2 linked regions of the Homo sapiens genome follow. The protein of the gene in region 1 purifies or fractionates together with the protein of each later gene. This does not show direct contact. Each region holds a gene or a part of one and is shown on either strand. Other genes may lie near its edges. The genes, in order: MAGEB1 and NSMCE4A.

Evidence for each region.
Region 2: the proteins of MAGEB1 (region 1) and NSMCE4A purify together in Homo sapiens (affinity purification with western blotting, with the first as the bait; one study listed by BioGRID). This does not show direct contact.

Annotation. Positions count from the first base shown.
Region 1 is NC_000023.11:30,245,693-30,250,106, forward strand, and holds the start of MAGEB1 (melanoma-associated antigen B1), read left to right. Parts: upstream 1-1,453; 5' UTR 1,454-1,564; intron 1,565-1,697; exon of another isoform or gene 1,698-1,780; intron 1,781-4,414.
Region 2 is NC_000010.11:121,968,478-121,972,285, reverse strand, and holds part of NSMCE4A (non-structural maintenance of chromosomes element 4 homolog A), read left to right. Parts: intron 1-1,216; coding exon 1,217-1,347; intron 1,348-3,808. UniProt on the Homo sapiens protein: Component of the SMC5-SMC6 complex, a complex involved in DNA double-strand breaks by homologous recombination. The complex may promote sister chromatid homologous recombination by recruiting the SMC1-SMC3 cohesin complex to double-strand breaks.

The sequences.
Region 1 (4,414 bases):
CCAAAATAATTGACAGATGTGAATTAAAGAGAAAAAGAAATAATACTCGGTGACAATATGATCACCGACAGAAGCAAAATTGGATAGCTTCAAAAGATCAAAAGATTACAAAAATCATCTGGCTCCACCCTTTTCTGTAGAAAGTAAAACTTTTAGAACTACCCTTTGGTTGGTGAAGTGAAGGAATAGATCAGCATGTTTTTTTCCCTGAGAGCACAACATCTGTCCTAGGCTCTCCACCTTCCGTTTCAGTTTCCCAACATCACATCACTTCTGGGACAGGGACCTCTTCTCTGCAAGGTTTGCAAAGAGGAAACTGGTCAAATTTTTGCAGGGATGTGACATTTCCCTGGAAGAGTTTGATCAAGAGACAGAAGCCAACATGAGAACCCTCATGAATGAATGGTGGGGAGAAAACCACTCCAAAATGTAAGGGTTCATCCAGACCCTCAGGAGAGTGACCTCAGTTCAGTAGATAGAGGAGTCCCAGGTTCTGATACATGTAAAGGCGAGGAGCATAAATGAAGACTGATGGAAGGACCCAGCCAAAACTGTGGGGTTCTATGGAGTCCTTTCCTTATTATCTGTTTTTGCAGGTTGCAAAAGGACTGTGATCATATGAAGATCATCCAGGAGTACAACTCGAAATTCTCAGAAAACAGGACCTTGATGTGAGAGGAGCAGGTTCAGGTAAACAAAGGGTAAGTTACAGGTTTGCTCACTTGTCAAGGTGAGGACCTGAATGTGGACTAAGGGTAGCTAGCACCCACATGGCCTCACAAAGTCCCCTCTGCTGTCAGCCCTAGGAAGCCTTGGCGGAGATGGCAGGCTGAATTCTGCCTGGAAAGTCTCAGGGAGATGACTGGTTCCGTCTAATTGGGGCAGCCTCAGTTTTACAGAGCGAAGAGGCCGAGACCCTAACAAGAATCAATGTAGGGCTTTTAAGTGTTAAGAGGGGACTCCACCAGCAGATGAGTCCCCACAGAATTCACCCCGTTTTGAGGCATCAGACAGAGCTATCTACCTAAGGTGCCTCTCATTTCCGCCTGGAAGGTCTCATGGAGGATGGGGAGCGTGGGGCCTGAAGGGAGTAGCTTCAGTTCTGCCTGGAGAGGAAACCAGAGTCACGGTGAGGACTCTGAGAGCTGATGAGAAGGCCTCTGCCCAAAACGGGACTTTCACAGAGCCCTGCCGCTGCTGTCAGGCCTGTGAGGCCCAGGCAGGGGTGGCCTGTGTGGCACGCTCAGATTTCCACCTTGGGGGCTGAGAGAGGTGGGGCTATTGTTTGAGGCTGGCGGATTTGGGTCAGCAGGCGGAGTCGTCCCAGACTGCTAGATACTAAGGTGAGGACCCCTAGTGGGGACGTAGGGACCAGCGACGCTAGAACAGTTACGTCCAGAAGCGTACCACCCCTGCCGTCAGCCCGGAGGCCACGGGCTGCCGGATGTGGCTCATCCTGACTTCCGCTTTGAAGGCGAGGACCCCAGCGAGCGTAAGGGCGCAGTGTCCGCCTGGCGGATTTGGGTCAGCAGGCGGAAGTCGTCCCAGGCTGCTAGATACTAAGGTGAGGAACCCTAGTGGGGACGTAGGGACCAGCGACACTAGAACAGTGACGTCCCGTAGCGTCCTGCCTCTGCCGTCAGCCCTCAGAGGCCCTGGGCTGCCGGATGTGGCTCATCCTCATTTCCCTTTTGAAGGCGAGGACCCGAGCGAGCTTAAGGAGTGGGGTGCAGCGTCTGGTCAGCGGAGGGTGAATTCTCAGGACTGGTCGGGAGTCAAGGTGAGGACCCTGAGTGTAAATTGAAGAGACCACCCCCACCCGTAACAAAGAGGTCCCCTCTAAGTCCCGCTTCTGCATTTGGTCCTGGGAGGCCTCAGGTAACCAGATGGGTAGCACCCTGACTGTCTCTTCAGCGACTCAGGGAGACGAAGGCTTTGGCCTAAGCCTTATAGACTCAGGTCAATAGAGGGAGGAGTCCTAAACCCTACTACCCGTAATCCCAGAACTCTGGGAGGCCGAGGCAGGCGGATCACGAGGTCAGGATATCAAGACCATCCTGGCTAACACGGTGAAACCCCGTCTCTACTAAAAATAGAAAAAATTAGCCAGGCGTGGTGGTGGGCTGCTGTAGTCCCAGCTACTCAGGAGGCTGAGGCAGGAGAATGGCGTGAACCCGGGAAGCGGAGCTTACAGTGAGCCGAGATTGCACCACTGCACTCCAGCCTGGGTGACAGAGCGAGACTCAGTCTCAAGAAAAAAAAAAAAAAAAAAAAAAAGTCCCGCTCCTGCTGTCGGCACACGCAGGCCCCAGTCAGCCTTGGTGGGATGTGGCCCACTATGACTGTGAACTTAGGTCCAAGGAATATGAGAACTTTTGTCTACGGGGCATGGTGTTAGGAGCAGTTGATGGGTGGAGTCCCAGAAAGAGTGCTGAGTGGAGGTGGAGACACTGAGTGAGGAAATGGCGGCTACTCTATACACGAGGGAGACAATTGCGCCTGATGCTGTCCCTGGGAGTCCCAGGCCAGAGCTGGCAGGCTCAAGTACTCCCTGGCTTCTGCCTTCATAGTCTTAGAGAGAGGAGGGCCTTGGTTTAAGGCCTCACTGCCCCAGTTCAGTAGAGAGATAGGAGTCATACGCCAAGACAGGTGTCAAGGTACAATTTCTTTATGAGGAATGAGGTAACCGTCTAGTCCAGAACAGGCAGGAACACAGTCTTACCTTGGCGTTCATTCCTTAGAAGCCAGGGTTAGAACTCTCAAGTTGAGATGCCCCTCATTTCCTTCAGGTACTGTTTCAGGTACATAATGGCTTTGGTTTAACATGAAAGCCCTTGTTTAGTACAGGGAGGAGGCCCAGTTCCTAAAAGATGGTGACACTGAGGGAGTATGAGGGGACCCCCTCCAAGAAAGAGGTAACACAGATAGAGCCCTATCCCCACTGAGACCTGGGAGATCCAGGTATGGTGACATGATGAGTCTCACTCACTTCTTCCTAGAGCATCTCAGGGAAGTGGGGAACTTCATCAAAGGGGGCAGCCTTATGTTAGCAGCTAGAGGATTCCTAGGTAATTCCAGGAGTCAAAAAGAAGACCCTGAGAACTGGGGGAACCACTCATCCCATAACAGTGAAAGAAACACGGAATTCCTTCCTGATTTTCATCCTTGGGAGATGATGGACAATTGTAGCCAGATGGGAAAAGTTTCACTTCTTCCTCAGGGAGTTGTCGGGGGGTGCTTTGTATGACTGGATAGGCGTTAGATCAAGACAGAGAAGTCACTGAGGGAGGAATGAGATGAGCATTTACCTAGAGAGTGGGGCTTCACCAAGTTCTACCCCCTCTCAGCTCTGGGAAACCCCAGGCAGAAGTACCCAGATGTGTCATCCCCTCAAGACTAGCCCTGGGTACTCAGAGAGGTGAAGGCTTTTGTATGAGCCTGGAAGAATCAAGTGGGATTAGAGAGGAGCTCAGACTCTGCTTGAGTGAAGACTAAAGAGAACAACGACCCCAGAACAGTGGAGCCCCATAGAGGACGTGGTGACTGGATGTGATTCAGGCTTTCTTTCATCTTGGGACTATGAGGCAATGAGAATCTTAATCTGATGTAAGGGGCCTCAGGTCAGTAGAGAGAGGATTTCCAGGTTGTGCCAGGCCTCATAGAGAGGACTTGAGGGAACTCCCACCTCATCAGTGGGGATCCCTCAGAGTCCCTCTGTATGTCAGCGCTAGGAAGCCCCGAGCATAAATGTCAGAAATGCCCCTAAATTCCTCTTCAGAAGTAACAGGGAAATGAAGGTCTTAGTCAGATGGGTTAGCAGGAGGGGTGGGAGGCATTTTAGGCCCTCCCAGGAGTCAAACTGGAGACCTTGAGTGAGGACCATGAGTGGGGCTACACATCACAGGGCTTCAACCTGCCAGCCACAGCTTTCAGCCTCTGGAGAATATGGGCATTGTGACCAGATACAGCCACCCTCATTTCCTCCATTGGGTCTCAGGCAGATGTAGGCCTTACTATGAGTAAATGTCCTCAGGTGTAGAGAGAACAGAGCCCTAGGCCCTTCTGGGAGTCGAAGTGTGAGTGTGGACTGAAGGCACCATTCCCCCAAGCCCCCAACCCCCACCCCAAATAGAGGAAAAACAACGATGCTAGCCCTGTCTCTGCACTTAGCTCTGAAAGGCCTTGGCCAAGGGTTGCCAGGCTGAGACTTTATTTCTTTGCATCAGGTCTAAGGGAGGTGACAGCTTTGGTCTGAAGATGCAGCACCAGTTAGCAGAAGACAGGTTCCCAGAACTTAGATATAGATGAGATGAGGACTCTGAATTAAGATTGAGGTCCAACTAGCCCAGGACAGAGAGAGTTCCATAGAACTGTCAGCACTGCCATCCCGCCCAGCCCCCGGTAAGGATGGTAG
Region 2 (3,808 bases), on another chromosome or scaffold:
GTGGCATGATCTTGGCTCACTGCAACCTCTGCCCCCCCCAGGTTAAAGCTATTCTCCAGCTTCAGCCACCCGAGTAGCTGGGATTACAGGTGTGCACCACCATGCCCAGCTAATTTTTGATTCTTTAGTAGAGATGGGGTTTCACCACGTTGCCCAGGCTGGTCTCAAACTTTGGAGCTCAAAGTGATCCGCCTGCCTCGGCTTCCCAAAGTGTAGGGATTACAGGCATGAGCTGCTGTGCCCAGCCTGTTTCTGCATTAATTTAAATCTTTTTTTTCCATAGCTTTTCTTAAATCCCATGTCCTCTGTCAAGCCTTTTTTGAGTATCCGTCCTCGGGTCACTACCTGCTACCTGTAGACTGTTCATTTGGGTGGCTTTGCTGGGGTTGCCTGTGAAGCCATACAGAGGCATGAGCCTCCTAGTGCCAGCCTAGCACATGCCATGATTTTGGTTAGCAACTTTAGCAACTTACCTATTGCTTAGCAGCTTACCTATTGCTGTTCACAAACCACCATGCCAAGCACAGGGCCCTACATGTAGTGGGAATTTGATTTTCCTTACGTCAGCACACATGATCATCGTGATTAGGATGGAGGGAAAAGTGAGTATTAGACATGACGGGTTTTGCTCAACTGGAGTTATTTAAGAGATTGTGATTCAGCTAACAGTAGGAGAACTAGACAGAAAGCTGGCTTTTAGGAAGACTGGTCAGCTTTCATTAGAGATTTTGGTGAGTTGGGCACAGGAGAAAGTTTTTTTTTGTTTTTGTTTTTGTTTTGAGACAGCCTCTTGCTCTGACACCCAGGCTGGAGTGCAGTGGCGCGATCTTGGCTTACTGCAAGCTCTGCCTCCCGGGTTCACGCCATTCTGCCTCAGCCTCCCAAGTAGCTGGGACTACAGGCGCCCGCCACCACGCCCTGCTAATTTTTTGTATTTTTAGTAGAGCTGGGGTTTCACCGTGTTAGCCAGGATGGTCTCGATCTCCTGACCTCGTGATCCGCCCGCCTTGGCCTCCCAAAGTGCTGGGATTACAGGCTTGAGCCACCGCACCTGGCCAGGAGCACGTTTTAGAAGGAGATGTGTCAGTTGCCTATTGAGATTTTTTTTTTTTTTTAGTCCAGTGGGAAATCCTGGTAAGTAGTTGGAAATGTAGGGAAAAAGTCTATGGATAATGTGTATTTTGTAATGTGAATATTTTCTTTCTTTTTTGAATAGTGTCCCGAGCAAGAGAAGCAGTCCTGGATGCCCACTTTCTTGTTTTGGCTTCAGATTTGGGCAAAGAGAAAGCAAAGCAGCTGCGCTCAGACCTGAGCTCCTTTGACATGTTAAGATATGTTGAAACTCTAGTAAGTTCAAAGCTACAGACTCTGAATAAAAAATGTTCTGTTATATATTATAATTATTTACTGTGCTCATATCCATATGCAGATGATTTCACTTCATTCTTCTTTTTTGGTCTCAGATTCCTCTGTAGAGATCTTACCAATTTAAACAGACGAAAGTAGAACCATGTGGTGGAATCTTGGGTGGGGGCTTGGAGTAAAAATCTCGTAGCATTCTGTCTTAAGATGCTGGGTGCTATGGTCATTTGCCAATGGCCATTTTTCCTCTGTTCACTGGTGTTCTAGATCATTCTCAGTGACCTCAGACCTTTGTCCTGGGCTGGACAAAAGCCCACTCTGCGATGGCAGAGCTCAGCTGGAATTGAGTTAGGCCTGGCGAGAGGGCATGTTTTGGTCTGTCTTTGAGAATATTTCAAAACCATGTGAATATGATTGGGTTTTGCTTTTTTTTTTTTTTTTTTTTTTCCTTTGAGACAGAGTCTCGCTCTGTCGCCCAGGCTGGAGTGCAGTGGCGTGATCTCGGCTCACTGCAAGCTCTGCCTCCTGGGTTCACGCCATTCTCCTGTCTCAGCCTCCCAAGTAGCTGGGACTACAGGCGCCTGCCACCACGCCCGGCTAATTTTTTGTATTTTTAGTAGAGACGGGGTTTCATCATGTTAGCCAGGATGGTCTGGATCTCCTGATCTCGTGATCTGCCCGCCTTGGCTTCCCAAAGTGCTGGGATTACAGCCGTGAGCCACCTAGCCCAGCCAGGTTTTGCTTTTTTGGTTTTATGTTTTATTCACCTTTCTTTGTCTCTTGACAAGTTTGAATAGTGGTTACCTGCAATTCTAAAACTGTTCCTTGATGAATTTACCAAAAAAGAAAAAGCACACAGAGACTGACCTTGTATCTCACTTTGTTGTCTTTTTAAAAAATTCTATTCTGGCTGGGGGCAGTGGCTCACGCCTGTAATCCCAGCACTTTGGGAGGCTGAGGCGGGTGGATCACCTGAGGTCAGAAGTTTCAGACCAGCCTGGCCACCATGGTGAAAGCCCGTCTCTACTAAAAATAGAAAAATTAGCTGGGTGTGGTGGCAGGCGCCTGTAATCCCAGCTACTCGGGAGGCTAAGGCAGGATAATCCCTTGAACCCAGGAGGCAGAAGTTGCAGTGAGCCGAGATCGCGCCACTGCACTCCAGCCTGGGCTACAGAGTGAGACTGCACCTCAAAATCAATCAATCAATCAGTCAATCTGTCAATCTGAGCCAACCTCTGTCCTAGCACAGATAGCTGCACCTCAGTATGAATATTGCATTTCTAACTGGATGTTTATGTTAAATGGTTATTAAAATAATTTAGTACTATGAGATCTGATCAGATAATTTTTTTGTAAAGGCATGAGGCACCAGATTATTTCCAGTTTGTTTTTCAAACCTTTTCCTTTTTTTTTTTTTTTTTTAACTTTTTTTTATTGTGAAACATAATGCACTTAGGAAAGTGCACTGTAATATAGAGGTCAATAAAGTAACCATGTATTGGGTATTTCTTTAAAAATTACTTTATCAGGTTAAGCTCTATTTTTTTATTTTTTGAGACAGAGTCTTGCTCTTGTTGCCCAGGCTGGAGTGTTGCCCATGCTGGAGTGTTGCCCAGGCTGGAGTGCAGTGGCACGATCTCAGCTCACCGCAACCTCCACCTCCTGGGTTCAAGCGATTCTCCTGCCTCAGCCTCCCAAGAAGCTGGCATTACAGGTGCCTGTCCCCACGCCTGGCTAATTTTTAGTAGAGGTGGGGTTTCGCCATGTTGGCCAGGCTGGCCTCGAACTCCTGACTTCGTGATCCACCCGCCTGGACTTCCCAAAGTGCTGGGATTACAGGCATGAGCCACCGTGCCCGGCCAAGCTCTGTACTTTAAATAACATATCAAAATAAATTCTGGAAGTCTTAAAGCATTAAATATAAAACCTTAAATTAATAGTTGTCCAGTCTCTGGGTGGAGAAGACTTTCGTATGTATAGCATCAAATATAGACACTATAAGGAAAGATTGGTGGATTTCTCTGTCAGTTAAACAGACCAAAACTGCCACGTCTGCCTACAAGGGTGCAGTGGTAGTTCGGGCGGCAAGGGAATGGAGAAGAGCTGGCCATAGCGCTCTGACCAGGCTCTTGTAGCCTTTCTTTTCTTTAAAGTCTGATTGCCTTTAATAGGGTTAAGCTCCCTGAGGGTTTTGTGATTATTGTTTATATATGATATTGCCATCGTAATTGGATAACTTCTAGGCATTTTACAGTATAATGTAATAAAAATGTACTTTCATAAAAGTAAATTCAATATAACACATTTTCTGTAAGACAGTTTGAGATGAGAGAATTATTTGACTTCCGCCAACTCTTCCCAGGAAGGCAATTTTAAGATGAGCCATTCTCTCAGTGATGCCGGGCCACTGCTCTCTGGATATACTGAGATACAAGCTGAATAGAGA